4 linked regions of the Homo sapiens genome follow. The protein of the gene in region 2 binds, or shares a complex with, the protein of the main gene of each other region. Each region holds a gene or a part of one and is shown on either strand. Other genes may lie near its edges. The genes, in order: SMARCD2, SMARCA2, SMARCB1 and ARID1A.

Region 1 (6,996 bases), on a different chromosome or scaffold from region 2:
GACCCCAACTCTTTAAAAAAAAAAAAAGAGGTAAAAATAGTGTGTACCTCATATATGGTATCTACCTCCTATGTGTTGTGATGATTAAATGAGCTAATTCACGTAGAAAATGCTCAGTAAATGTTACCTATTCTCTGCCTACTGTGTAGGAAATCTTCCTTTTATCTCTACCATGCCTCAGATATCTCTATTTGCTCCCTAACACCTTAAGGATATTTTATCATAACACAGTTAACTCATTGTTTATATTATCTGATATATCTGATATTAACTGATATTATATTATTGTTTATCATTCCCTCCCACTACACTCAAACATTGTCTGTTCATACATATTTGTTAAGTTACAACAGGGATCAAGGGAGACACAGTATATACCCCAAATAACTGAAAACAGGTACTCAAATACAAATATATATTCATAGCAGCACTACTTGGAATAGCCAAGAAGTAGAAGTAGCCCTACTGCGCATCAACAGATAAATGGATAGGGCCAGGCATGGTGGTTCATGCCTATAATCCTAGCACTCTGGGAGGCCAAGGCAGGAGGATCACTTGAGCTAAGGAGTTTGAAATCAGCCTGGGCAACACAGCGAGATGCTGTCATAAACAAATAAATACAAAGACAAACAGATGAACACATTGTGTTATATACATACAATGGAATATTATTCAGCCATAAGAAGAAAGGAAGTACTGATACATGCTACAAAATGGATGAACCTCAAAAACATTATGCTAAGTGAAGGAAGCCATGCCCAACACCCACCTATTATGATTCCATTTATATGAAGTATCCAGAATAGATAAATCTAGAGACAGAACCCAGATTGGTGGGTGCCAGAAGTTGGGAAGAGGAAGAAATGAGGAGCAACTTCTAATGAGGATGGAGTTTTCTTTTGGGGTCATTATTTTGGACCCCAAAATTTTGGACCTAGGTAGAGGAGGTGTTGCACAACATTGTGAATGTAATATATACCACTGAATTGTGCAATTTCAAACAGTTAATTTTATTACGTAAATCTCACTTCAATTTAAAAAAATAGCCAGGTGTGGTGTATACCTACTCAGCTATTCAGGAACTATCACTTGAGCCCAGGGGTTTGAGGCCAGCCTGGGCAACCTAGCAAATCACTGTCTTAAAAAAATACAAATTTTAAAATAAAAAGATAAATTGAGAGAGAAAAAGATCCTGCCTTCGTAGAGTTTATATTTTAGTGGGTGAGCCACATCAGACAGTAAATCAGCACACACTTAAGTAATGATGTACTGTGATAATCACTTGGTGGGAAGTAGGGTGTGAGAGAACAGAGAGGCTCTGAGATGGGAAGGGGATGGGTAGTTTGAAAAACTGCAAGGAGACCATCTGGGCCAATGCTTGGAGAGCCAAAGGCAGTGATTTAAAATGAACCCAAGGAGGTAAGCAGGGACCAGGTCCTGCAGAGCCTTAAATGTCACAGGAGGGAGTGTGACATTCAATCTAAGAGCAATGGGGAGCTGGGGAGGGTTTTAAACAAGGGATTGACAGGAACTGAGTTATATTTAACCGTTTGATCTGCTTTATTATTATTGAGACAGTGTCTTACTCTGTCACCCAGGCTGGAGTGCAGTGGCACGATCTCTGCTCACTGCAACCACTGCCTCTTGGGTTCAAGCAATTCTCGTGCCTCAGCCTCCTGAGTAGCTGGGATTACAGGTGTGCACCACCACGCCCAGCTAATTTTTATATTTTTAGTAGAGACATGGTTTCACCATCTTGGCCAGACTGGTCTCGAACTCCTGACTTCAAGTGATCCACTCACCTTGGCCTCCCAAAGTGCTGGGATTACAGGTGTGAGCCACTCCACCCAGCTGATCTGCTTTTAAATGCACTTATTAGCTTGCCCCTTTTCTAGGGTAGAAAAAATCTTGTGTTTTCTGATGCGACCCACTGGGTCGCATCAGAATTACCTAGGAAGCTTATTTTTCAAATACAATACTGAGAGCCATTGGATTGGAGGGGTGGCTGGCGGAGGTATTTTGGAGTAGCTTCCCAGAGGACTCTGATTCTCCACTGCCCCTATCACTTTGAGAATTACTGTTGTTCTAGAAGCTTAAAAGGATTGAAATGGATATTAGCTGCCTTATCATGAACTCTTAACCCACTTTACAGGGATGGGAGGGGCCATGATTCAGTGACTTTAACAATTCCAGTGGCCAGTCCCCAGACTGACAGGTTATCGACTCTTGGGGCAATAGAGTGGGATCTCTAAGTTCAGGAGGTAAGAAAACAGCAGCAGCGGTGTTTATCACTAGAGGCATGAGGAGAACTAATTTCTAAAAAGCACTGGAGAACTATACTGTAAAAAAGATCTGGGGTGCTATGATGCAAGGAAGGAAGTATTACTTGGTTGGGGCTGGAAAAATAAAGCAATTATAGTAAAAAAACTAAAAAAAAAAAAAAGTCTAGATCCCGGCTTCTTGACAGTGTGGTCTGAGAAGCAACAGCATCGCTGGCAGCTTGTTACAAATGCAGAGTCCTGGGCCCTGCCACAATCTGCATTTTTAATAAGAGCCTCGAGTGTTTTTTATGTGCTCATTAAAGTTTAAGCAGCACTGGTCCATATCACGGCGAGGAGATCCAGACCATCAGAGGGTAGGCTCCCTGGCACAGCTGACGCATTTTTGAATACTTTGATACAGCACAGTGTACCTGAAAAGATACTGCATTTTTGAAAATTAAGTGCTATAAATACTGGAGAAAGACCTCTTTTTTTAAACTGCGGGGAGGTTTCTCATAAGCCAAATTTCTTTTGACTAGAAGCATTTTCTGGGGAGTAAAGTACCAGGCTTCCTTAAAGTGAGGCGGAGCCACGTTAAAAATGTGCGGTAGAACTCAGCCTTGGCCAAGTCGACCGTTCACCAGCTGGGTCAAGTCTGGAGCCTCCTAGGTCCCTTGGCAGTTCCGAGCTACCAGCATGAGCTTTTACAGGAAGTTGAGTTGGCTGCTGTTCTGCCCCACAGAGCAGCTGAGTCTTTTTTTTTTTTTTTTTTTTTTTTGATGAGTTTCACTCTTGCCGCCCAGGCTGGAGTGCAGTGGGGCGATCTCGGCTCATTGCAACCTCTGCCTCCAAGGTTCAAGCGATTCTCCTGCCTCAGCCTGCCGAGTAGCTTGGATTACAGGCGCCCGTCACCACACTCGGCTAATTTTTGTATTTTTAGTAGAGACGGGGTTTTCACCATGTTGGCCAGGCTGGTCTCGAACTTCTGACCTCAGGGGATCCGCCCGCCTCAGCCTCCCAAAGCGCTGGGATTACAGGCGTGAGCCACAGCTACCGACTCTGAGTTGAGTCTTTAACGCCGAAGATGCAGAAAGGAGACTTGACAAAACTATTTTCGGGGAGTGTGGCCGCGGAATTCGGTGAGGGTGCTATACCGGGAGAGAGTAGTAGCAACGGCTCATTCACTGTGAAGCCCCTAAGTGACCTTAGACCTCTGACCCCGCGCCTCACTCGGCGCTTCCGCGCGCAGCTTCCGCTCCCGCCCCTCCGACGAAAGGCTGGGCCAAAGGTGGGGGGGTGGGGCTCTGAGGTCGGCAGTTAGGGGCGGTGCCCGCTGGGGGCGGGTCTCGCGAGGGGCAGGATTCGAGGAGGCACTCGAGCATTGGGCACCAGGTAGAGGCGGGGCCTAGTGCTGGGCTGGGTTGGGCGGGGCAGGGAGTTCGTAGCCGCCTCTGGGTAACTCGACTCGGGCGGCCAAACCTCCGGAGGCCGGGGACGGAAGGCGGGCCCGCAGCAGATCCTGGATCCGGAATCTCCCGGGCAGGAGCGGAATCTGTCCCGAACCGGGTCTGTGAGGAACTCGCGAACTTGGATTAGGAAATCCCGGAGCCCGGATCGACAAATCCCGGAACCCGGAATTAAGATCGCCAAGTCCCGGATCGCGGAGCACAGAGCACGGAGTGGACTCGACGCGGAGCCCGGAGTCCGGATCGCGGCACCGCGGGACGGGACGGAGCGATGTCGGGCCGAGGCGCGGGCGGGTTCCCGCTGCCCCCGCTAAGCCCTGGCGGCGGCGCCGTGGCTGCGGCCCTGGGAGCGCCGCCTCCCCCCGCGGGACCCGGCATGCTGCCCGGACCGGCGCTCCGGGGACCGGGTCCGGCAGGAGGCGTGGGGGGCCCCGGGGCCGCCGCCTTCCGCCCCATGGGCCCCGCGGGCCCCGCGGCGCAGTACCAGGTGAGCAAGGAGGACGCGAGCGGACGGGGGCGAGAGGCGCTGCGAGGGCGCCCGGGCCGGCGGCTGAAGGGGCCTCGAGTGAGGGCCCTGGGGAATGCATGAGGAACTCCGGGAGACGGTGGAGGGCGGGCCGGGACCCTCGGGCTGCGGCGGGTCGCGGTGGAGAAGTGGGAAGGGGAAGCAGGTTCTGCAGCGGAGGGCTGGAAGCAGCTGGGAGGCCTGGGGGCTTCCGCGGCACAGGGATTCCGAGTGACTGGGAGATGGAGGAGTTTGGGGAGCCAGTGAATTGTGGCGGGTGGGTTGAGAAGTCTAGGGTAGGAGGGCTGGAAAGTGATGAGAAAGTTTGGGAAAGGGCCCTCGCTGAGAAACCGGGGTTACCCTGCATCGGCCTTGGTCCCAGTCCAAGTCTGCCCTGTTTTTTCTGATTGGGAACTGGCGGAGCTCTAGCGTGTCTGAGATGGCTCCCGGCTGCTAATAAGGAGGAAGGAGCCTGGCTTCCCACGGGCACGGGACGCTGAGGCTAGGGCCAGGGGATTCCAGCTTGTGCACGGGCGGACTTTACTCCTGAGGCAGGGCCAGGCGCCTTCGCTGGGAGGACTCCAGCTTAGACCAGAGACGGTGGTGGCCTGGCCTGAGGGGAGGCCCAGCCCAGTCACAGGCCGGCTCTCTTCTGGGCTTTCTGCCTCCTGTCATCGTGTCCGGGAGTTGATTAGTCTGGACGTGCAGAGTGGAGCCCTGCTGGTCTGGGGCCGGAGGAGTCTGCGAGAGTTGCTTCAAAGAGTGCTGTCCTGACCCCTTTGGGGTTTTGAGAGCTGCTCAGATTGCAGCTTCAAAAGCCCTTGCAAAGCAGCGACTTCTGCTCAGTGTGTGAGGACCTCAGCCTGACCCTGCCAGTGCTCTAGTCTGCTGTTCAGGTTGCCCCAGAGGGCTTGGAAACTGTGCCCATCTGCCTTGTCACCCTCTCTGCATTTTTATTTGGCCTTCAGGTTCTAACTCCACCACGTCCGAAGCCATGTGCCCAAGCATTTGACACTGGCTTCTTGCTCATCTACGGGTTTGCTGTGGGCTTCCTCTGTTTTCGACTCATGTCTCCAGGCAGAGGTCCTTAGGGATCCTCGTGGAGTATACACAGCCTACCTGCCCCACTGGGCCCTCACTTCTAAGGAGATGGCTTAACTAGGGACAGTGACTGGATTTTTTTTTCCTTCTTACTCCTCATTCTTCCTCCTTTCTCAAGAGAAAAGAGAGTCTGGGTATGGGCAGAGACAGACCTGGTCCCAGGGATTCCAGCTGGGGCTCATCTCTCCCACCTTGCTGTCCCCGTTGGGGATTCATGGGCCCAGGGTGTTGCTGAGGGCTCCCTGCATCATTCATTGTAGCCCTTGGGCCTGCCCACTGAGACCTGGCCTGGGCACCATCTGTGGGCCTTTGGCCTTGGAAGGACCTGGAACAGACAAGCCGCTCCAGTTTCCTTGGCATGCAAGCCATAGGAAATGTGCCCTTGGGACAGCCCCTGAGAGGATGGATTCCACATGTTTTGGTGGGGGGTGGCCTTGGGCCTGTGGCAAGGCCAAGCTGGCTGGCTGGTTAGGCCTGGGCTGCTAGCTGTGCGGAAGTAGGAGATGGCCCTGAGTCTGGGTTTCCCATCCCACTAGCTTTCCTCCTCCTGGCAGGAGAGGTAGATGGGAAGGAGAACCCAGCCAGCTAACTTTGGCTGAGTTTGAAGAGGATCCTATTTGCCTTCTTTCCAAGTCCAGTTGTATGACTGCCAGGAGAAGGGACTTGAGATCTGGGAAACAAAGGGGTTCCTGTCTGTTAGGGCTCATGAGATGCACTTGAAAAGTGAGAATTTGAGGCCCAAGCTGAGCAAATAGTTGAAAGAAGGGAAGTGATGACCTCCCTTCCTCCAGAGGGTGGTTCTAGCTGTGGATCACAGTTAACAGAGGAACCTAAAAAAAGAAAAAGAAAAGAAAAAAACCTCCAGGGCAGGATATGGTGGGCTCACACCTGTAATCCTAGCACTTTGGGAGGCCCAGACAGAAGGATTACTTGAGACCAGGAGTTCAAGACCAGCCTAAGCAACATAGTGAGACCATCATCTCTTAAAAAAAAAAAAAAAAATTTAGCCAAGCATGGTGGTGTGCGCTTATGGTCCCAGCTACTCAGGATGCTGTGGCAGGAGGATTGCTTGAGTCCAGGAGTTCAAGGCTGCATTGAGCTATGATCCTGCCACTGCACTCCAGCCTGGGCAACAAAATAACAAAAACCTCAGATTGCTGGGTTCACTCCAGAGAGTTCAAAAAGTTCAAAAAAAAAATTTTTTTTTTTCTGATACGGAGTCTCACTCTGTCGCCCAGGCTGGAGTGCAGTGACATGATCTCAGCTCACTGCAACCTCCGCCTCCCAGGTTCAAACAATCCTCTGCCTCAAGCCTCCTGAGTAGCTGGGATTACAGGCGCCCACCACCACGCCCGGCTAATTTTTTTGTATTTTTAGTAGAGACGAGGTTTCACCATCTTGGCCAGGATGGTCTCGAACTCCTGACCTTGTGATCCACCCGCCTCGGCCTCCCAAAGTGCTGGGATTATAGGCGTGAGCCACTGCACCCGGCCTCAAAATCCTTTTTACTCATGGGAGAGTGGGTGGTATGTTCCCCAACTGAGGCCCTCAGGCCCAGGTTCCAGGAGCATCAGGGCCACATTTGGGGCAGGGCAAAGCACGCTCACCGGAGCCCTGGATTCCTCATCTGGGGTTCAGGGGATTGATCCAGGCCTACCTGGTC
Region 2 (7,532 bases):
GAGACAACCTTGCAAAACTCACCCAAAAGTTATATAAACAAAGGAGGGGAGAAGCCCAGTCTAGGCTTTGCACCCATGTGCCACTAAAATTACATAACACCCGGTGCAGACATTGAATAAGGAATGGATTCTGCACAACACCCCCACTCCCTCGATTCCCAAGCCTTCCTCATTCCCTTAAAAAATCCAAACGCCTAGCAAGAGCTAGTGGACGACTTTGAATATTTATTTTATTGCTGGAGTAAAACCTGCGAGAGTTGGAGGTACGTTTAGGCCCGAAGTTTGAATGTGCAACAGCCCCGGGCGCAGCGACTCACACTCTCCGGACCCGGAGGAGAAAGAACTGACAAGCAACAGCGGCCAGCAAGGCCTTCTTCCCCCTCATGGTGCCTCCCGCTGGAAAGTTTTCCACGCAATCGATCGGAGGACAAGGAGCCCATTTCCCCCGCCTGCCTGACTTTGCAGGAAAGGCGAGCCGGGAGACCGGAGGGGGCTGGCAGGGAAAGAACTGGAAAGCTCCGCACACAGCCGGCGGCAGGGCTGCGCAGGCTCCTTACCTGGAGGACGCGGAACAAAAAGGGGCGCGGGGTTCGCGGAGCTTGGGGTGGCGGCGCGGCCGGCGGACGGGAACCGGTCTCCGAGCCGCGGCTCTAGGCCCGCGCCACAGCCCGCGGCCCGGCCCCCGCCGCTGCCGCTTCCTCCCTCGCGCGCGTCATGTCACGGCAATCAAACATGTCTGTGTGCTGTGTGCGCTTCGCTGCTGTGACTTCCTGATTCTCCGCCGCTCGCGCGCGCACACACACACACTCACAACCACACGCACACGCCACCCCCACCAGCCCTCGCCACCAAACCTCGCCTTGTCCTCCCCGGGCTCCAGGGGAGGGTGCGGGCAGGAGCAGCTGCCCGAGCCGCTGCTCCCGACGCACTGGCTCCTGCGCGCACAACACACACTCACACTCACACTCACGCGCAGACACACTCGCGCCGGCCGGGAGGGCGCGGAGGCTGGAGCCGCGGGAGCTCGCAGCCCCCTCCCACCCCTCCACCCTACTTAGCCGCCCTGCCAAACTTTTTTTTTCCTGCCTGATCCACGTCCAACTTCCCTCCACCCCACCCCCCAAGCAGCCCAGCCAGCCCCGCGCTCACCACCATCCGCAGCAAACGGCAACCCGGATAAAAATAATAATGCAATCCAGGCGGCAGAGGCGGAGGCGGAGGCGAGCGATCAGACACTGGCAGGAGGCGATTTCCCCGCGTGTACCGGAAACCGGCCCAAGTGCCCCGGCCAAGGCGCGGGTGTCCGCCGGAGCCCGCACTGCCGCGCCCCGCCCTCCGCCGTGTAACTGCACCCAGGCTGCGAGGCCTGGTGCGGGGCACCGGGAGCACTGTGCTCCGTGTGCGCCCTGCGGCCGGAGGGCGCCGAGGGGCTGGCGCGCCGGACCGGTTATTTAGGGAAGTGCATCGCGACACCTTTGCAGATGGCATGGCCGTGTTTTGCAACGCAAACGGGAGGAAGGGAAGACGGCCGGGTGGAGGGGGAGAGCAAAGGAAGGGGTAAACCAGGTTGGGATGGGAATAAAGCAAACTCCTGAGCAGGGAGCGAGAAGGAAGGAGTGCGTGTCATCGTTGGGAGGAGGCTCCTACCCGGTCTCCCCGCCTCCCGCCCTCGCCACCCCCCTATTCCCTCCCCACCGCAGCCCTTCCCCTTCCCGGGCGAACCACACCGCCGCTGCCCGGTGGTGCGCGGGTCCTGTTTGTGACAGTCAGGCAGACAGGATTATCCGGATCATGGCCTCCCGGGCCCGCAGCCGCCGCCGTGGCTCTCCTGGGTCCCGGCGCGCCCCTAGCACCCGGACGATCGCAGGCGCCCCACGCCCGCAGCTCCCGCGGCGCAAGCAAGGGGAAGACGCGAAGCAAAAGAACACGGACCCGGGGAGAGGGAGGGCAGGGTAACGGAGGCTGGCGGGCACCTCCGACCTCCTTGGGGGCCTCCTCCCTTCCCTCCAGCAGTGCGGCCCGGGCCGGACATCCCGAACTTTAACACCCGAGCCTGCGCTGCCGCCAGGTACCAGAGGCAGGGACGTCCGCAGCGCCCGGGGCGCAGCCCCCTGGCAGCCCCTTTGCCTAAAGGCCTGCCTACCAATCAGCCTCCCCATCCACGCCGGAGGAAACGCGGAAAGTGGAGGTGACACCTCCGATCAGGCACGCACCGGCCCCGCGGCAGTGGCCGCTACCTCCTTCGCGCGTCAGCTCAGGCTTCTCCCGCTGCGATCCGCTCACGTCTCCGCAGCCGGAGCCCTTTGAACAAGTCCCTGGGAAGCGGGTGGCAACAGCGTCCGTTGGCGCCCCGCCGCCAGCCTGGGCTCCCCGCCCTCCTTTCCCGTTCCCCTTCCAACTCTTCCGGGGAGGGTTGCCCGGGATGAACAGTAGCGTTTCCATCCTCCTCCCCTGTCCCCCAGGCCTTCCCCCTCCTGCGGCCACCCCCCTCCCCGCCGCCTCACTTTTAAGGGGATGGGGGGATTGCAACCTGGCCCAATGTGTGTGTTGCAACCTTGAGTTGGCAGCGCCTCTGACTGCCCACTCAGGATCAAGGCTGTGGCTTGTTGGGATTTTTTTCCTCCTTTGCCCCCTTGAAGTAGTAATTATTACTGTTATTATTAGAACAGCAAGGTTCGGTTGAAACTTTCTCGTTTCTTCCACCGCCGCCTGGGAGCTGTCGTTAGAGCATTCCACCTGAGGCCCGCGGGGAGGAGGCGGGCTTTTTTTTGTCGCGGCGGTTGGCCCGCCTGTTTGTTTTGGTCTCCTTGCATGCACAATAAATAATAATTAGGATAATAATGGATAATCCCGGGCGAAGGCGGCGTGGTGCCGGAGGGGTCTGAGCGGCGGCTGCAGCGGGGCGGCCGAAGGGAGGGGAAAGAGGAGAAAAGAGTTGTAAGTTATATTTACCTTGCTCGCGAGGAGTGTGCTGGCTGAATCTCTTCCCTCTCTGAGTCACCCAGAGTACAGAAACAGAGGGAGAGAGGACTAGATTATGAATATGACTTCATTGATGACAGCCGTCCCCTCCTCTTCCTAAACTCGGGCTCCGCCCAGCGTCCCACCCTCGCCTCCTCCGCGGGCGCCGGAAGACGCGCCGCAGTTGGCCCCGCGCGCCGCTCCTCCCTGCCCGTCCGGGCGCGGGTTGGCGGGACGCGCCTGTCACTCGCTCAGCTCAGCGACTCCGGGAGCGCGGGGGGAGGAGGGGGCGGTGTGCAAGAATGTGGATCTAGACAGCTCTACTGTATGCGTGGATCCGTGTGTGACTGCAAGGCGCCGGCTCTCGGGCCGCGTTTGTGCCTGGAGCAGAGAAACTGCGCGGGATGCAGAAAGCCCCAAGCCCTGCTGGAGCTGGGCGCCCGCTGTCCCTTCCCTGGCAGTCCTCTTCCTCGGGCGCCGCGGGGCTCCTCCAGGGAGACTGCGGAAGGGGAGGAGGCGAAGCGAAAACGGAGGGCAGCCGTAGTAATAGCGCGTAGTAGTTCGGGGGTATGTGGAGAAGGTGCTGGAATTTAACTGTGCCTCCGCCTGCCAGTGCGAGCCTGCAGAGAGAGAGGGAGGGGACGGGGGACGGGCTCCGAGTGGCACCAAAGCTGTTTGTGGCACAGTGTGGACTGTGGAAAAAACGGGCATTGTCGTGCCGGCTGAAACTTTTTCTCCCCCTTCCCTAAGGCTGTCATTATAAATCTGCCCCCTATTCCAGGTAAAAAAATAAAAAATAGAAAAGGGAGGCGGGCACAAAGAACGTTCCTGCCAAATCTGTCTCTTCCCTGAAGGACTGCAAGCTTCCAAATGCCAACGAGGGAGAAACAGCTGAGAGGCTGAACGCCTTATAAATAAGTAAACCCACCCTAACCTCTCTGTTTACTTCGTGGACTAGGTACAGCACTATAACCTTCCCTCACCTGCCATCTTCGCTAAAATATATACAAAAATATGGAAAAACAAACCCTGGGGGCGGGGCTGGCGGGTTAGGGGGCGGCTGAAGCATGGAATCTGGTTTTGATTTAAAAAGGGGAATAAATCTCTTATTTTCTACAGACCGTAGTCTCTTCCCTCTCACCCCGCATTTGAGACCAATTAAGGCTGCAAATTGTAATTTGCTGGCAAGTCGCGGTTTTGAGACCTCTTTGCTCCAATTTTCCTTGAAATACAGTACTTTGGCCGGACCAATAGGTCGGTGTTTGGTGAGACAATTTTATTTTTAGTTTTATGAAGTGTGAAAGAATGTTAGGAGACTTTAAATCAGGGGCCTATTATTTTAGACTCAGATTAATGTAGATGCTTGACTCTTAAAACTGTTCCTATGCAGTAGTGTTATGAAAAGTATGATTTATCCCTTATTTCGTAATGTAATGGCTTAAATTAGTCATTCAAAGTGCACTGTGACTATCTGGTTGAGGATTCTTCCCCCTAGAGTAAAATCCTATTTTAAGACCATTTTACTGTTGCAAAATTGACTCCATTTGAGCAACTGGGTCTGAAATGCAGTTCTAGGATGCTTAAAACTTCAGGCTGGATAAGTTGAAGACAAGAAGTAATGGAAAGAACGCCAAATACTGCCATGTAGTCATTAAGAAGCAAGAATTCTTTATATCACTGGTCCACTGCTGGCTGAAGCAGAGCCCACTAGGGCAGCATTTTCATGATGGCTGGGAGTGTTGGTGATCACCCACCCTATAGCTTTCTAAGGTCTTGCTACTTGCTTGTTAACTTTAGCTTCATCATTTTCTGTCTATCTTGAAGTGAACCTCAAGACAACGAAAGATAACACAGCTAAGAGAAATAGAATATAGTGTGCCCTGAAGGATCCATTGTAAGAACTTGTTTTTCTGCCTGAGGATATGCCGGTATAACTATTAACTGAGAAATATATAGGGAGAAATTTTAAACAAGACTAGTAGTATAGTAAAAGTGTAACATAAATACTAACTTCTAACTGCCTAATAAGTCGCAACTAATAATATAGCCAGATAACCTACCTGTCTCTAATAAAGAGATTTAACCTAATAGCAATGCTTATTACATTGAGAGTATTAGGTTTTAATTTTTTTGGGGTCTAATTTGTTTCTCTGGCATGCCGGCCTCACATGCCAATTTTCAGAAATTGATAACTTCACTTTTATTCCCTTGTGAATAAATGCCCTTTATCCCCTTAAGATTCTACTTCCACTTGCCATGCAAATCCTCAAAAAAACAAAAACAAAAACAAATCAATTAGTAAGTCCCTGGAGAAAGAAACTGTCCATTCCTTCTGGCATTTTGTCACAGGGAAAGTAAAGAAGAAAACATTCCCTTTGTTATATGTGTATATTCTTCAGCTCATATAAAATTTTGATGTTGTCCTTGGAGGCGTTGGTATCCACGCATTGTATACACACAGCTATGGGAATTAAAATACATCGTTGGGAACAGAGATTAAATATAGATATTGCATCTCCCTCTCCCTTCGCATTGGTCTAAGAAAGCACCACCTTCCCCCATCACCCTTCAAGTTGTTCCTCTAAAAATTCGTCTTGTTTGTAGTTTGTACCCTAGCAGTTACGAATTTTATAAAATAAGGCCTCAACACAGGAGAAATGAAAAGGCAGCGTCATTCACTTGGTACAAAAAGAAGATTGTAGAACATATAGCATGAGTTTCACCTCTGAGGTAAAACGAAATTTAACAATTGAAGTTAAGGAGGAAAATGATGGGTTTTTTTTGTTTTGTTTTGCAGAAAATCATACAAAAGCAAATGTGGTTGGAGGGTAAAAGGACTCCAGGAGGCTGCACAGGGTGCTACGTTCACACGCAGCTTTTCTTTTTGGACTTTGATGAGTCATAATGTGTTCTCTGAACTTGCTTTTCTCTTTCTAGTTTGGTATCAAAAGATAGAAGTCACTTTTTCATGTCTGTATGGCCACATTCACTTGTTATGTAAGTCTGCTTTGGTTACATTCTGTATAGAGTAGATACTGGGTTTAAAACTTGGTATCTGGATACAACACCCTCATAAAGAAAAATTCCATGCACAACGTTAGGAAGCTTCTAGTCCCAACAGACAAACTGTTAATGCTGCCTGAAATGTTGCCTAGCTTCAAACACGAGCAGGTAAGACCGTTTAGGCAGTGAGTATTTCATCTTCAGTAATGGAAACCAAGATTTGACAAATTGAATCAGCTGACATTTAATTTAAAGAATAGTTTAGAATTAACAAGTAAATTTATTACAGAAATAAACACTCCTCTCTCTCCTTTTTTCTTTTTTTCCTTTTTGAGTCAGAGTCTCGCTCTATTGCCCAGGCTGGAGTGCAGTGGCGGGATCTTGGCTCACTGCAACCGCCGCCTCCCAGGTTCAAGGGATTCTCGAACCTCAGCTTCTCGATTAGCTGGGATTACAGGTGCCCGCCACCATATCCAGCTAATTTTTGTATTTTTTGTAGAGACAGGGTTTCACCATGTTGGCCAGGCTGATCTGGAACTCCTGAACTCAAGTGATCCACCCGCCTCTGCCTCCCAAAGTGCTAGGATTACAGGGGTGAGTCACCACACCCCGCTCTCTCTTTTTTTTCTAATGGGCATGTTCAATAAATTATGTTTTTCACAATCATTCCCCCAAAATACCACCCCCAATTCTCTTTATGATTATATCGTTCTTTAGCTTAAAATCCTTTGTCTATTCCCAATCCATTTTACGGTAAGTTTCAAACTTCTTGGCATGTTATCCTAGGCTGTGCATAGACAGGTCTCTACCAGCGTTGTTGACCCTGCCGCCAAAAATGCCTGGGCTCAGGGAAAACCTGTCTACCGTTTGGTTCCTAAGTGACCACATTGGACATTCTCCCCTCTGACTGAAGTGCAGATCCTCAACCCACATCCTCAAAACTCAACTATGACCCAGAATCCTTCTAGTGGTCTTCCCTGTTCTCCCCAGGCAGAGGAAGCTGCTTGTCCTACTCTGCTCCCATAGCAACCGGTGTGCGCCTCCATTATAGCACTTATCACTTTGATGCAATTATTTGTTTGGTGTTGTCCTCTAGATGGTTAGTGCCTGGAGGGTGTTTCGATTCATCTTTGAAACCTCAGCAATTACCCTGATACCTAGCACATTGTATTTAAAAAAAGAAAAGAAAAAAAAACTTTGTTGAAGGAAAGGATGAGAGATAGATAATAAAATTACCTGACATAGAAAATTTAGCCGGTCTTCACTATTAGTAATTATCATGTTAATGAACAACATCAGTAAGTGTTCCGAATCTTTACAGTATCTGCCAAGGCTTGAAAACGCTTGGAAAATGTGTTTGGTTTTTGTTTGGTTTTGTTTTGTTTTGTTTTGGGGAGGGGGGATGTGGGAAGATGAGGAGAAGCTACAGCTCTTGTAGTCATAGAAAGAGCACCGACAAGAGGTTTTGTTTGTTTTTAAATTAGGCTAGGAGTAACATGAATGCATACATGGCAATTGTTTAATACAGTAGTCACAATTATAATTGCAGCTCCTTTTTATTTCTCTTT
Region 3 (7,356 bases), on a different chromosome or scaffold from region 2:
GGCCGGCTAGTGCTACATTCCATATTGCAGATGAGGAAACTGAGGGTCAGAGAAGTGCAAGGTCTTACCCTGGTTTTTCAGCCACAGCCAGTAGAACAATAAACTGCTGTACACTGAGGGCCAACAATGCTCTAAGCTCCTTACTGGTCTCATCCAGTTCTCAGAACAGCCCTCTGATGTGACACCTGTTGTGAACCCAGTTTCCAGAGGAGCAAACAGAGGCTCAGGCAATGAGGCCCCTAACCTGGACTACCCTGGTGGTCCCTGCTCCTAACCACTGACCCACCCAGCCTCCCACAACCACAGGGGGCTAGAGCCAGTCCAGTGCTCCCTCCCCTGCTAGGCTCCTCTTCTGTGCTCTTTCTCCCACATCAGGACCCACTGGGAGAGCTATCCTAGGGTAGCCTCCAGCTCCAGGACTCCAGGGTGCCCGTCAATAGCCTGGCTAATTTAATAGATGCAGGAGAGAGTGATGTGGAGGGTGGTGGGGGCAACGGGACTTGCTTTCCTGAGAGGTGGGACTCAGGCCTCTGAGGCTCTGGGTACCTGTCAGGCTGGGTATTAGCCCAGCCCAGATTCCGGGGCAGGCAGAAGGGCTCCCTAGAGGGAAGAGAGGTTCTGAAAGGCCGGCCCTGGATCCTGCAGGACTCGAGGAACTCAGCAGTGGCCAAGGGCTTCCCACTCAGCCCTCCCTTAGTGCCCATCCCTGGGCACAGCCTGACAGGCAGGAGTAGGGCCCAGTGTCCGCTCGCCCAGGCTTGACCACCTTCTCTTCTCAGGCTATGCCTACTTCCTGCGCGGCCGCCTCTACTGGAAGTTTGACCCTGTGAAGGTGAAGGCTCTGGAAGGCTTCCCCCGTCTCGTGGGTCCTGACTTCTTTGGCTGTGCCGAGCCTGCCAACACTTTCCTCTGACCATGGCTTGGATGCCCTCAGGGGTGCTGACCCCTGCCAGGCCACGAATATCAGGCTAGAGACCCATGGCCATCTTTGTGGCTGTGGGCACCAGGCATGGGACTGAGCCCATGTCTCCTCAGGGGGATGGGGTGGGGTACAACCACCATGACAACTGCCGGGAGGGCCACGCAGGTCGTGGTCACCTGCCAGCGACTGTCTCAGACTGGGCAGGGAGGCTTTGGCATGACTTAAGAGGAAGGGCAGTCTTGGGCCCGCTATGCAGGTCCTGGCAAACCTGGCTGCCCTGTCTCCATCCCTGTCCCTCAGGGTAGCACCATGGCAGGACTGGGGGAACTGGAGTGTCCTTGCTGTATCCCTGTTGTGAGGTTCCTTCCAGGGGCTGGCACTGAAGCAAGGGTGCTGGGGCCCCATGGCCTTCAGCCCTGGCTGAGCAACTGGGCTGTAGGGCAGGGCCACTTCCTGAGGTCAGGTCTTGGTAGGTGCCTGCATCTGTCTGCCTTCTGGCTGACAATCCTGGAAATCTGTTCTCCAGAATCCAGGCCAAAAAGTTCACAGTCAAATGGGGAGGGGTATTCTTCATGCAGGAGACCCCAGGCCCTGGAGGCTGCAACATACCTCAATCCTGTCCCAGGCCGGATCCTCCTGAAGCCCTTTTCGCAGCACTGCTATCCTCCAAAGCCATTGTAAATGTGTGTACAGTGTGTATAAACCTTCTTCTTCTTTTTTTTTTTTTAAACTGAGGATTGTCATTAAACACAGTTGTTTTCTACCTGCCTGCTTGGTCTCCTTTTGTGAATGTTCAGCCAGGATGGGGAGGCCTGGCCACTGTCCAGCCCTATCCTGGGAGCCAGGGTCGAAGTCCACCACCCCCAAGCCTCTGGCCCTTGGGGCTGGGCACAGTGCTCAGGGCTCCTTCTGCTCCATTTCTACATCACATTTTGCTACAGTGGCTTCTTAACTGGCTCCCCACTTTCCTACTTGTCCCCTCTGTTCATCCTCCAGAGTGGTGGTTTATCTGCTCATGCCACAGCCCAGCCTGCCATACATAGCTGTGGTTTCTGCATCCGTAGGCTCAACTAACCTCGGGTAGAAAAAACAATGTTTAAAAAAAGGATGCGGACGGGCGCAGTGGCTCGTGCCTGTAATCCCAGTTCTTTGGGAGGCCGAGGTGTGTGGATCACCTGAGGTCAGAAGTTTGAGACCAGTCTGGCCAACATGGTGAAAACCCATCTCTACTAAATATACAAAAATTAGTTGGGTGTGGTGGCTCATGCCTGTAATCCCAGCTACTTGGGAGGCTGAGGCAGGAGAATCACTTGAACGTGGAGGCAGAGGTTACAGTGAGCTGAGATAGTGCCATTGCACTCCAGCCTGGGTGACAAGAGCAAAATTCCGTCTAAAAAAATAATAAAGTAAATAAATAGGCTGGGTGCAGTGGCTCATGCCTGTAATCCCAGCACTTTGGGAGGCTGAGGCCAGCAGATCACGAGGTCGGGAGATCGAGACCATCCTGGCTAACACCATGAAACCCCGTCTCTACTAAAAATACAAAAAATTAGCCAGGCGTGGTGGCGGGCGCCTGTAGTCCCAGCTACTCGGAAGGCTGAGGCAGGAGAATGGCGTGAACCCAGGAGGCGGTGCTTGCAGTGAGCCCAGATCATGCCACTGCACTCCAGCCTGGACGACAGAGCAAGACTCTGTCTCAATAAAATAAGTAAATAAATAAATAAATAAATAAATAAATAAGGGATGGTTACCTCTGTACTGAACATGTACGGACTTTTTTCCCTATCATTGTTCCCTAAACAATAGTATAACAACTATTTATATAACATTTGCATTGTATTAGGTAGTATAAGGAATCTAGAGATGATTTAAGGTATACAGGAAAGTGTGTGTAGGTTATATGCAAGTATGACACCATTTTATATAATGGACTTGAGCATCTGTGGACTTTATTATCTGCAGGGGGTCCTGGAACCAATTCCCATGGATACTGAGGGATGACTGTACTTTGGTTTCCCACCACTGTGAGGATACAGAACAAAGCAACTTCAGTCACTGCCCTTCCCAACTCTCCAGTGTCTCCTTGCCCTACCTTCCAGCCCCATGTGTGTCTTCGTAATAGCATAGTTGCATTTTTTTTTTTTTTAAGAGAGGCAGGGTCTCCCTTTGTTGCCCAGGCTGCAGTGCAGTGGTGCAATCAGCTCACTATAACCTTGAACTCCTGGGCTCAAGGGATCTTCCCCTCTCCACTTCCCAAGTAGCTGGGGCTACAGGTGCACACCGCCATGCCACACCCAGCTTATTTATTTTAGAATTTTTGTAGAGACAGGGTCTTGCTGTCTTGTCCAGTCTGGTCTCAAACTCCTGGCTTCAAGTGATCCTCCCTGCCTTGGCCTCCTAAAGAGTTGGGATTACAAGGCCGGGCGCAGTGGCTCACACCTGTAATCCCAGCACTTTGGGAGGCCGAGGGGGGCGGATCACGAGGTCAGGAGATCGAGACCATCCTGGCTAACATGGTGAAACCCTGTCTCTACTAAAAATACAAAAAATTAGCTGGGCGTGGTGGCGGGTGCCTGTAGTCCCAGCTACTTGGGAGGCTGAGGCAGGAGACTCCAGCCTCAAAAAAAAAAAAAAGAGTTGGGATTACAGGCATGAGCCGCTGAGCCCAGCCACAGCTGCAATTTCATTAGATTGAACGGTGTGAAATCATCAGTAGTGGGCCACTGTTTTACTCCCTGCATTATTCAATCATGATTGCTTTCAGACTTTCATTAGTTTCACTAGCTTCGCGCTGTAAGAGCCAAGAGGCAGAGCCACAGGGCTGGGCTGCCTGGTTTCACTCCCCACTGCAGGGCTCGGTTAAGCAGAGTGTAGGCTAAGAGAGGAATGGAGAAGGTGGAAGGTGTCTCTCCCTTCCAACGCTCATCTGATGCACCAGCCAAACCAAATACCACCTGGGCCTTTGAACATTGCCAAGCCTCATCCGCTGTTGTCATTTTGCCCACCTCCACAGCTGCAGGGACAGCCGTAGGCCCGGAACTGGGATATCTCTTCCTAGGGGCCTGCCTATCTGCTCAGCTGCACTGCGTTTTAGGGGTGGGGAAGCTAAGGCACGAGATTGGGGTCCCAAAGCATGCCCAGACCACCCAGGCTTCCAGATACTAGGTCCTCCTCCTTCAGGCCTCACTTCGTTGCTTTTCCCCTGGGCTCAGTTCCAGTCCTGGCTGTAAGACTGGGAAAGCCACTGCTTGAGTCAGGACCTCATTGGCTATTTTTGTCCGTGAGAAGTCCTCTACACCACGACTTGGGAGGCAGCCTGGGAGAAAGAGAAATTAGTCGTGGCTCCTTTAAGGGGTCCGCGGAGGCGCGCCCGGCCTTTTGTTTGAGCGGCGGCGCGCGCGTCAGCGTCAACGCCAGCGCCTGCGCACTGAGGGCGGCCTGGTCGTCGTCTGCGGCGGCGGCGGCGGCTGAGGAGCCCGGCTGAGGCGCCAGTACCCGGCCCGGTCCGCATTTCGCCTTCCGGCTTCGGTTTCCCTCGGCCCAGCACGCCCCGGCCCCGCCCCAGCCCTCCTGATCCCTCGCAGCCCGGCTCCGGCCGCCCGCCTCTGCCGCCGCAATGATGATGATGGCGCTGAGCAAGACCTTCGGGCAGAAGCCCGTGAAGTTCCAGCTGGAGGACGACGGCGAGTTCTACATGATCGGCTCCGAGGTAGCCCGGGGCGCGTTCTCGCCCTCCCCGGGCTCGGCCCCGCGGGAGCCCCGGGGCGGGCCCATGCGCCGAGAGCGCGCGTCTCCATTCATCGGGGCGGGCGGGCGCGCGCGCGCGCGCTCGGGGCTGTGGGGCGTGGCCTAGTGGGCGTGTCGGGTGTGGCCCCCGCCCCCTCATCGACCTGGGATTTCCTTACTTATTTCGCCGAGGTCCGCCGCCTTCAGTGCTGCCAAGATTTTGGCGCCGCGAGGGGCCCCAGTGGTTCCGCGCTGGGTTGGTTTCCAGTCAGACGCAAAGAAACGGGATATTGAGTTAGCCCCTGCGACGCTTGGGGGACTGCACTGCTGCCTTTGACCCTTTTTAGATGTCGTAAATTTCACGTGCACCCCTCCCCGTATTGCTACTTGTGGGAACCTCAAATGGCAGGCTGGAAACCCTGGACTTAGTGAGGGCTCATCCCCATTGTGTTTGTTGCCTCTTAGGTGAGCAGTGGAGGTCTTTTGACCTTTGTTTACCGGTGAAGAAACAGATTGGAGGAAGATGTTTGCTTTTGGGTGAATAAGGGCCCCATGCCTAAGCTAGATCTTTCAGCAGTTCTGAAGCGATTGACACTTTCCATATCTGTGAACTGATTCTGAATTATTACAGGGGAAAGAGCCTAAGGATGTTTAACCCTTAACTAGAGTGGCTGCATTTTGTTGCATCAACTGGATGACTGACTTCAGGAAAACTCTACTGGCCTTTGAATGGGTGTTTGTTCCAAGTCTATTAGGTTCTTGTTTTTTGTTTTTTATAGAGACAGGGTCTGGCTATGTTGCGCAGGCAGGTCTCCAACTCCTGGGCTCAAGCAGTCTGCCCGTCTGGGTCTCCCAAAGTGCTAGGATTACAGGCATGAGCCACCACACCCGGCCATATATTAGGTTTTTACAGATTGTCTCAAACTAGCCTTTTTTGCTCCAAAGGCAGTCCCCAGCTAGTATATGTTACCTTTTTAAAAAAATTATGGATATACAGTTCAGATGTACAAATGTCAAGCAGTAGAATCTCATGTAAGGAAGTAAGTGCCAATCCTGGAGAATTAAAGCTATCATGAAATGCCAAGAGTTTCTTCTCCTTATAGCAGTTTTTAGTATCATATTCCAGCATTTTATTCGTACTTTATTTTCTTTTATTTTTGAAAAAAGATCTCACTTTGTGCAGTGGTGTGATCTCGGCTCACTGCAGCCTTGACCTCCTGGGCTCAAGCGATCCTCCTGCCTCAGCCTCCCAAGTACCTGGGACTACAGGTGTGCACCACCGTGCCCGACTAATTTTTGTATTTTTTGTAGAGACAGGGTTTTGCCATGTTGCCCAGGCTGGTCTTGAACTCCTGGGCTCAAGTGATCCTTGCACCTCAGCCTCTCAAAGTGCTGGAATGACAGGTGTGAGCTACTGCACTCACACTCAGCGCATTCATACTTTTTAAACTTGTGGGTTTTATCCTTCACAATTGAGCATAGCATGAATGAATGAAGCCTCAAGATGGTCACACTGAGTCCCATGGATGAGACTAAGGTCAATAGCATCAGAACTTTAGTGTTAGCATTTTCCACCATTTTTTTTTTCTGGACGAGGTTTGACTCTATCACCCAGGCTGGAGTGTAGTGGTGTAATCTCGGCTCACTGCAACCTCCGCCTCCCAGGCTCAAGCCGTCCTCCCACCTCAGTCTCCCAAGTAGCTGGGACTACACGCACACACCACCACACCCGGCTAATTTTTATATTTTTAGTAAAGATGGGGTTTTACCATATTGTCCAGGCTGGTCTTAAACTTGTGAGCTCAAGTGATCTGCCCGCCTCGGCCTCCCAAAGTGCTCGATTATAGGCGTGAGCCACTGTGCCTGGCCTCCACTAATTTTTATAAAACAAAAAATATAGGATTCAATAAAATTTTCACGTTGTCACTTAAATTACAACTGTTCAAAGATGCCAGTGCTGGGGAGGTAGAGCCAGTGCCTGTCCATCTGCCACAGTTCAGAATGGTCCTCATTGGCCAGTAGGCACCTGCCTAACTGCAGAATGCAAAAGGTGTCAAATTTCAGCCTGTGATACTAGGCGAGTTGTTTACCTGATCTAATGGGTGTAAAAGTAATCAGTTTGGCTCTAAGTAGGTGACACTTCAAAAGAAAGCTTTCATTTATTAGTTGGAGCAAATTGAGAAGCTGTGCGTGGCCAAGTGGGAAGAACCTTGGGAGGCCTGGTTCCAGCCCTGCTCTGCCTTGCTGTCGTGTTTCTCATGTGTATAATGTGATGCTTAGACTAGATGGTCTCCAAGATCTTCCCCAAAACACATTTTAGTTTCTAGAAAGCTAATTACAGTCTTGTCTTTCAGCCCCTTGACTCCTGGGCCTCCCAGTAAGAATAATCTTCCTGAGACCCAGGCTGTAAGAGACTCAGTTGGAGAGGCAGTTTGTTCTTTTGGGCCTGACTTAATCATCAGACCTTCGGAGTTTAGGGAAGAGTTCAAGGTCAGAGCTCTATTGAAATTCAGTAGCTCCAGTGATAGTAGTGGATGGACGGTCTCAGCCCACTGCCCTGTGGAAAACAGGCACTGTATTCAGAGAGGTGGGCCAGCCATAGCAACATACCCAGTGCCTCCATGCGCCATCTGTGGAGCTGTCTTGGGAAGGCATCTGCATTTACTAAGAGTGTGTGTCACTGTTCTGCCATTAACAGACAGCTGTAT
Region 4 (6,843 bases), on a different chromosome or scaffold from region 2:
ACCAAGTTTGAGGCCTCCTGGTTTGCTCCTTTGGGATTCTAGATCCTTGGCAGTCACAGTTTTACCGCGAAGAGCTGTTGAATGCCATTCCGAGTTCATTCCATTTTTCTCCGTGTGTGCATCCAGTTCGTATTTTACAGCTCCCGTATGGGAGCCGGTAACATAATGAATTGCCTTGACTCTCGCTTCAATCCACTTTCCTCGCTTAATATGCAGCCCAAAGTTTTGCAGCTCGCTGTCAGATGGTAGTGCTAGACTTTCACACCGATCCCAAAGCCTCCGCTGGGGCTGTTTCTTAACACGGAGTTACAAACTTTAAGAACAGACAGCTCCAGACGGAAATCCACGCCAGGCTTTGAACTCTGCTTCTGGCTTCCGTCAACTGACATAGTTGCCCTTTTGCTCAAACTCGCAGCTCCAGTTCGCACTCGAGAGAGCTCTGCTGGGTGTCTGCTGCTGTTCCGCGGCGGGAACGTGTGGGGGCAACAACCTGGCGCTCCAGCGATTCTCCACGCCTTAGTTAGGAATCTAAGCAAACCCTCGCTAGGGTCCCTGGGCTTAAGACGACTTCTCCCACAAGGATTGGGTGGAGGAAGGAGCCGAGCCCGATCTTCTGTTTGTTTGTTGAGTTTTGTATTTCAGACATTTAGGGGAAGCAAATTGCGAGAAAGGAAGGGCTGTCTTCCCTGCAAACGTTTCCCTCTCCTAGCAAACCCTCCAGGCCTCGGTTCCACATTTTGCAGTTGACTCTCTGGATTTTAATAGGTTGTTCCCTTGTCCTCGGGCCCAATCCATGCACGCTGTGCAGCCGGATAAAATGGGAGCACATCCTCTGCCATTTTCAGCCGGTTTGTCCTGGCAGCCCTGCCCCCTTCCTTGGCTGCTCTGCCGCTGGAGTTAATACGCCCAGAAACTCCGCCTGATCCTCCAGGCCTCAAATCCAGTCCGCGTTTGCTAAGTGCCGTGCGGTCGGGGACGGCGATAAGAACTCTCCTGTGAGGGAGAGCTAGCGAGACTTTAGTCCGGTTTCCATGTCAACGATTCAGTCCATATTTGCCATCAGGCTGTTGGCCGAGGTGCTTTCGCGAGGGTAGCGCTGTCCTAGTCCTAGTTCTCCAATCTGCGCCGGGATTCCTGAGCTGCCTGGGTGTGGGGTTAAAAGGCAGGGGCCGTGGGGGAAAAAACTCCACCGAAGGGAGGACCCACTGCCCCCAGCCGGGGTCTCGCTGCTCGGGCCAGCCACGTGCCCAGCTCCTCCCCTCCCCCGCTTTCCCGTTGCCACTGCCCCTAGGGAAAGCTGATGGGCCAGTTTCTAAAAAAGTTCCCTCAGCCCAACATTTCCTGGGATCGTGGTGTGGGGCTCTAAAAGTAAAAGTGGAAGAGAACCCTAGTGAATTAAAAAAAAAAAAAAGTAGAGAAATTCCACATTATCTCCTCCAACCCAGGTGGATAGATTTTTGTGCACTTTACCTTATTGCTAGAGAAAAATGGTGACTGTTTTCAAAACAGCTTGCCCACGTGTAGGGAAGGAGATTTTTGGCGCTTTCCATATTTCACAGCCATTGAAGAAAGGGGATGAGGGCTTTCTTTGGAGAGAAATCCATTCTAGCTTCCAGATTTTCACTGGGCTCCAGGTTTCCCATTACACCCCAGCTCTAAGGAAAATGGCAGAGTAATGGCATGTAAAAAAATCCTCATTTGTGTGCAGGACTCAGGACTGTTTGCCAGCTCAGGGGCAGTTGATTAAATAGCCAAGCTCTATTTATGAGGCAGCCTATAATTTGGTTTCTAGGACCTAATGCACCGGGGAGAGTTGTTGCCCCTGAGGACTGTGAGTGAAAAGAGGGCACTGGCCCATACCAGTCAGTCGGATCTTCTTGGTAGGCTGGTTTGGTTCTTGGCTTGAGGCCGGGGGAGGGGAGAAGAATAAAACTGTGGGATTTTTTTTTTTTTTAAATCTCATCACTCTTAGATTAACAGGAAGGTTTTGCCTTTCTGGTGTAGGATGCAGTAAGTTTTCTTGGGGAGAGAAATGAGTTCAGGCTTTGGAATTATTCATAGTGACCAGGGACATTGCCAGCACTCCCGGGTCCTGCATAATCTAAGATAATGCTCCTGTGGCCATGAAGTCTCCCTTTACAAAATCTGAGGGGGAAAAGAGATCCTGGTGTCTAGGAACACTGGCCTGGGCCTTTCCCAAGGCAGCCTTGGGTCTGGTGAGGAGCTGGAATCCCCTCTGGCTTTTGTAGCCTGTCATATCAGAACATTCCAAGTCAGCCTGAGGAAGAAAAGGCTGCTGCTGGGATTTGGTGGGGCCTGTAGATCAGGAGAACACTGGAGCTTTCTGTGTATGTCGATCTTTTCAGATAAACCTGGCCTTCTACCCAACTCCAGCTCAATCGGGGTCTCTTAGAATGTAATGGTAAACTTTAAACAATCTTTACGCTACAGGATAGAAAACAAATCTGACAAGCATCCATTTTCTAAGTGACTTGTTGGACTGTGCCTTTTCTTCAAGGAGAAAATGGTTTCCATTTTCTGCATCTCTCTTCTGTAATGGTTTGAACACTCAGGTTCCTGCAGTCCCTGGAGCCTCTTCTGTGGGTTTTCAGTATTAGAAGGTACTGTCTTTGGAGACTGGGGCTACTTGTCATGGTAGGCTAAGTTTTCTTAAGAGGGAGTGAGAAACGGTGTTTAGGTTTTCCTGCTGGGTAACTGTTCTATGCTCCTAAAGCAACTTCAGTGGCCTCCATTTTAAGTTAGTGGTGAGATGATCAGTTTTGACTTCAAATCCATTTTGATATTCTGATCCCATTGTTGAATGTGCTCACAACTTGATTTTTTTTTTTTTAAAGGCAAGTAGACCGAAGGCAGCTTTGGTGACTCCACTTCTTTTTAAAGTCACCCTCCTCTGCCCTCTGACTTTAAGTGACAGGCAGTTCCCTCCCCTCTCTTTCAATTCTGTAAAATGGGGATAATCCGGACCTCATGCCCCCAGAGCCTTGTAAGGACCGGCTAATGAGGGCAGGCGAGTGGGAAACGAATCGTCTGAACAATGATCAGTCATTCTTTCGGGCTTGCAAAGAGGGTAAAAAAGGTTGGGTCTTTAGCGGGGTCCGTAGAAGGCTTTGAAGACGAAAAGTGCTGTAGAGGTGCTAAGCAGCAGCCAACGGACCGGGCCCGCTGCCAGGGGGTCAGGGCTGGGCCGAGGCGGCCGCGGTCTCAGGCTCTGGCCAATTTTGCAGCCGCGGGTAAAGTTCACGCTGCCCGCTCCCCTCGGTACGGCCGGGAGGGGACAGACCTGGATAGGGACGCCGGGAGGGAGGCGGCGCAGGCTCCAGAGATGCGCGGGCTCCGGGCCGGGTTTTCTCCGAAGCCTTCGGCGGCGGCGCTGCCTAGCGAAAGCGGCTGAGGGCCTGCCGCCGCCGCGGCTTGTTCTCTCCCCTCCTCCTTTGTGAAGGGAAGGGAGCGAGTCCGTTCCACGGCCTGCGCCCGCTCCGCTCTCCACTCCGGGTTTGCCAGGCGGCCGCGACGGCGCTGGGTAAAATGGCAGTGCTGAGCCTCGTGTCGGAGTGAGGGGGACTCGGAGGAGAGTGGGGCGCTCTAGCCGCTCAGTCCGGCCGACCGCTTGCTCGCCCGCCCGCTGCCGCGCAGCAGCCTCGACCCAAGCCGCAGCTGGCGAGGGGAGGCAGGGCGCCGGGCTCGGCCCGCGCTCTGACTCTGGCTCCCGGCGCCCCGGCTGCTGCCGCGCGCCCTCCAGCCCGCCCGTCCCGGGTCCCCCTCCCCCCGCTCCCTCCCTCCCTCCCCGCCCCCTCCCCCTCGCCTCCCTCCCTCCCTCCCTCCTCCTTTCTCCGGCAGCAGAAAGCGGAGAGTCACAGCGGGGCCAGGCCCTGGGGAGCGGAGCCTCCACCGCCCCCCTCATTCCCAGGCAAGGGCTTGGGGGGAATGAGCCGGGAGAGCCGGGTCCCGAGCCTACAGAGCCGGGAGCAGCTGAGCCGCCGGCGCCTCGGCCGCCGCCGCCGCCTCCTCCTCCTCCGCCGCCGCCAGCCCGGAGCCTGAGCCGGCGGGGCGGGGGGGAGAGGAGCGAGCGCAGCGCAGCAGCGGAGCCCCGCGAGGCCCGCCCGGGCGGGTGGGGAGGGCAGCCCGGGGGACTGGGCCCCGGGGCGGGGTGGGAGGGGGGGAGAAGACGAAGACAGGGCCGGGTCTCTCCGCGGACGAGACAGCGGGGATCATGGCCGCGCAGGTCGCCCCCGCCGCCGCCAGCAGCCTGGGCAACCCGCCGCCGCCGCCGCCCTCGGAGCTGAAGAAAGCCGAGCAGCAGCAGCGGGAGGAGGCGGGGGGCGAGGCGGCGGCGGCGGCAGCGGCCGAGCGCGGGGAAATGAAGGCAGCCGCCGGGCAGGAAAGCGAGGGCCCCGCCGTGGGGCCGCCGCAGCCGCTGGGAAAGGAGCTGCAGGACGGGGCCGAGAGCAATGGGGGTGGCGGCGGCGGCGGAGCCGGCAGCGGCGGCGGGCCCGGCGCGGAGCCGGACCTGAAGAACTCGAACGGGAACGCGGGCCCTAGGCCCGCCCTGAACAATAACCTCACGGAGCCGCCCGGCGGCGGCGGTGGCGGCAGCAGCGATGGGGTGGGGGCGCCTCCTCACTCAGCCGCGGCCGCCTTGCCGCCCCCAGCCTACGGCTTCGGGCAACCCTACGGCCGGAGCCCGTCTGCCGTCGCCGCCGCCGCGGCCGCCGTCTTCCACCAACAACATGGCGGACAACAAAGCCCTGGCCTGGCAGCGCTGCAGAGCGGCGGCGGCGGGGGCCTGGAGCCCTACGCGGGGCCCCAGCAGAACTCTCACGACCACGGCTTCCCCAACCACCAGTACAACTCCTACTACCCCAACCGCAGCGCCTACCCCCCGCCCGCCCCGGCCTACGCGCTGAGCTCCCCGAGAGGTGGCACTCCGGGCTCCGGCGCGGCGGCGGCTGCCGGCTCCAAGCCGCCTCCCTCCTCCAGCGCCTCCGCCTCCTCGTCGTCTTCGTCCTTCGCTCAGCAGCGCTTCGGGGCCATGGGGGGAGGCGGCCCCTCCGCGGCCGGCGGGGGAACTCCCCAGCCCACCGCCACCCCCACCCTCAACCAACTGCTCACGTCGCCCAGCTCGGCCCGGGGCTACCAGGGCTACCCCGGGGGCGACTACAGTGGCGGGCCCCAGGACGGGGGCGCCGGCAAGGGCCCGGCGGACATGGCCTCGCAGTGTTGGGGGGCTGCGGCGGCGGCAGCTGCGGCGGCGGCCGCCTCGGGAGGGGCCCAACAAAGGAGCCACCACGCGCCCATGAGCCCCGGGAGCAGCGGCGGCGGGGGGCAGCCGCTCGCCCGGACCCCTCAGGTACACAGCTGAGTGGGGAGGGGGCTGGGGCGAGCGTGGTCCTGGGGGTGGGTGGCGGCTGCGGTGAGCGGGCCACAGCCTTGGGCTCCCCTCAGTCCCGGGCCCCCACTGCTGGGGAGCTGCCATTGTCTGGCTCTTCTCTCTTAAAATGGCTGCCTGTCTGCCTTCCTCTCCTTCCCTCCTTCAGCCTTTGTGTTGGGTTTTTCCAGAGGTGTCTGCTCCTCTTTTTCCTCTCCCCTGGTCCCTTCGAACTCCAGGGGTCTTGATGGGGGTGCGGGGCAGAGTGTGCGGGGAAGGGCCTGGCCGGGGGTGAGGGGGTGAGGGGGCGCTGGGGGCTCAGGTTAGGAGTGTAGGCAGTGGTAGGAGCCCAGGAGTTGAATGAACGTTTCTTTGCTCACCTGCCGCTCCTCTCCGTCCCCCGGCCTTCCTCTGGGCCGCCCCCCATCTGTGCTTTCAAAGAGGGCCCCTAGAGCTCGAGGGGACCTCGAGGGGAGGGCAGGGGACTGCTTGGGAGCTGCTAGAGGCCGGCTGCGGTTCACCTAGGGCAGCCCGGTCCATCTCCTGTCTTAGGCTCCGCCGGCCCAGTGGCCTGGGCTTCTCCCTGGAAGTGCTGGTAAACAGCTGAGTGATTGGAGTAGTAAGTGCAGATTGCTTTGGTTTGGGATTTGAATTATGGAGGTAAAATCCTTCTGTCAAAGCCAGGAGACAGTTGGTCTTAGGTTGACATCCTATCTGTGATCTGATTGGCTCCCCATCTCCTGCTCTTGGCCATTTATAATTGCCTCTGATGTAATGGTACAACAATCCTGATGAGCTCATAAACTTTTACACTCTGCTTTTCTGCCAGTGATAACCCAAACTATCGCTGCCACTATCTGCCTTTTATTCCAGAGCTGAAATTGGCTGTGACCTTGAGGAGGGAGGTTTAAGTAGCAATACTGTATCAGCAAGAGCAAAGCCTCAGACAGCCTGCCCTTGTTACATTGTGCCCAAACAAAAGAGGAGGCAATGGCATTTTGCTTGTACCTTGGATTTATTTTGCTTGTTATGTTTTATGCAGCCTGAAATGAATTCTGTGTTGTCAGAACAGTAGCTGAGTTTTTTCTCTACAATGGGTTTGCTGTTTGTTTTGGTTTTGTGACTTTCCTGATGGTATAAATGACTTCTTTGATGGCTCTGAAGATGCATTTATCTTGAGTAATTTTGACACTGGTTGCTTTGCAGAATTGAAATGATTTTACTGGGCTTTTTATTGAGTGGCAAATGTGGGATCTTTATGGGGGGCCAGAAAACAGTTTTTGTTATTTTTTTTAGAACTGGGAGCTTTCTGAGGAATTTTATATTAGGTTCAAGCGGTCTGTTTTAAGGAAGACTGGCCTCATTCTTTGTTTACATGTTGAATCTTGTTAACACTTTCTTTTGTTAATTGAACTTTGGAATAGCAGCTTAATTTAAAGGGAAGCTGGTGTCTTTCA

Evidence for each region.
Region 1: SMARCA2 (region 2) and SMARCD2 share a complex: the UniProt entries of both Homo sapiens proteins name them as parts of the BAF complex.
Region 3: SMARCA2 (region 2) and SMARCB1 share a complex: the UniProt entries of both Homo sapiens proteins name them as parts of the BAF complex.
Region 4: SMARCA2 (region 2) and ARID1A share a complex: the UniProt entries of both Homo sapiens proteins name them as parts of the neuron-specific chromatin remodeling complex.

The regions. Positions count from the first base shown.
Region 1 is NC_000017.11:63,839,677-63,846,672, reverse strand, and holds the start of SMARCD2 (SWI/SNF-related matrix-associated actin-dependent regulator of chromatin subfamily D member 2), read left to right. Parts: upstream 1-3,987; 5' UTR 3,988-3,998; coding exon 3,999-4,214; exon of another isoform or gene 4,215-4,292; intron 4,293-6,996. UniProt on the Homo sapiens protein: Involved in transcriptional activation and repression of select genes by chromatin remodeling (alteration of DNA-nucleosome topology).
Region 2 is NC_000009.12:2,010,825-2,018,356, reverse strand, and holds the start of SMARCA2 (SWI/SNF-related matrix-associated actin-dependent regulator of chromatin subfamily A member 2), read right to left. Parts: upstream 3,011-7,532; 5' UTR 2,953-3,010; intron 1-2,952. UniProt on the Homo sapiens protein: ATPase involved in transcriptional activation and repression of select genes by chromatin remodeling (alteration of DNA-nucleosome topology).
Region 3 is NC_000022.11:23,782,632-23,789,987, forward strand, and holds the start of SMARCB1 (SWI/SNF-related matrix-associated actin-dependent regulator of chromatin subfamily B member 1), read left to right. Parts: upstream 1-4,334; 5' UTR 4,335-4,538; coding exon 4,539-4,631; intron 4,632-7,356. Other genes in the region: MMP11 (stromelysin-3 preproprotein), read left to right, coding at 780-913.
Region 4 is NC_000001.11:26,692,173-26,699,015, forward strand, and holds the start of ARID1A (AT-rich interactive domain-containing protein 1A), read left to right. Parts: upstream 1-3,842; 5' UTR 3,843-4,044; coding exon of another isoform or gene 4,045-4,231; coding exon 4,232-5,368; intron 5,369-6,843. Other genes in the region: translation initiation factor IF-2-like, read right to left, coding at 3,107-3,793, 4,045-4,233. UniProt on the Homo sapiens protein: Involved in transcriptional activation and repression of select genes by chromatin remodeling (alteration of DNA-nucleosome topology).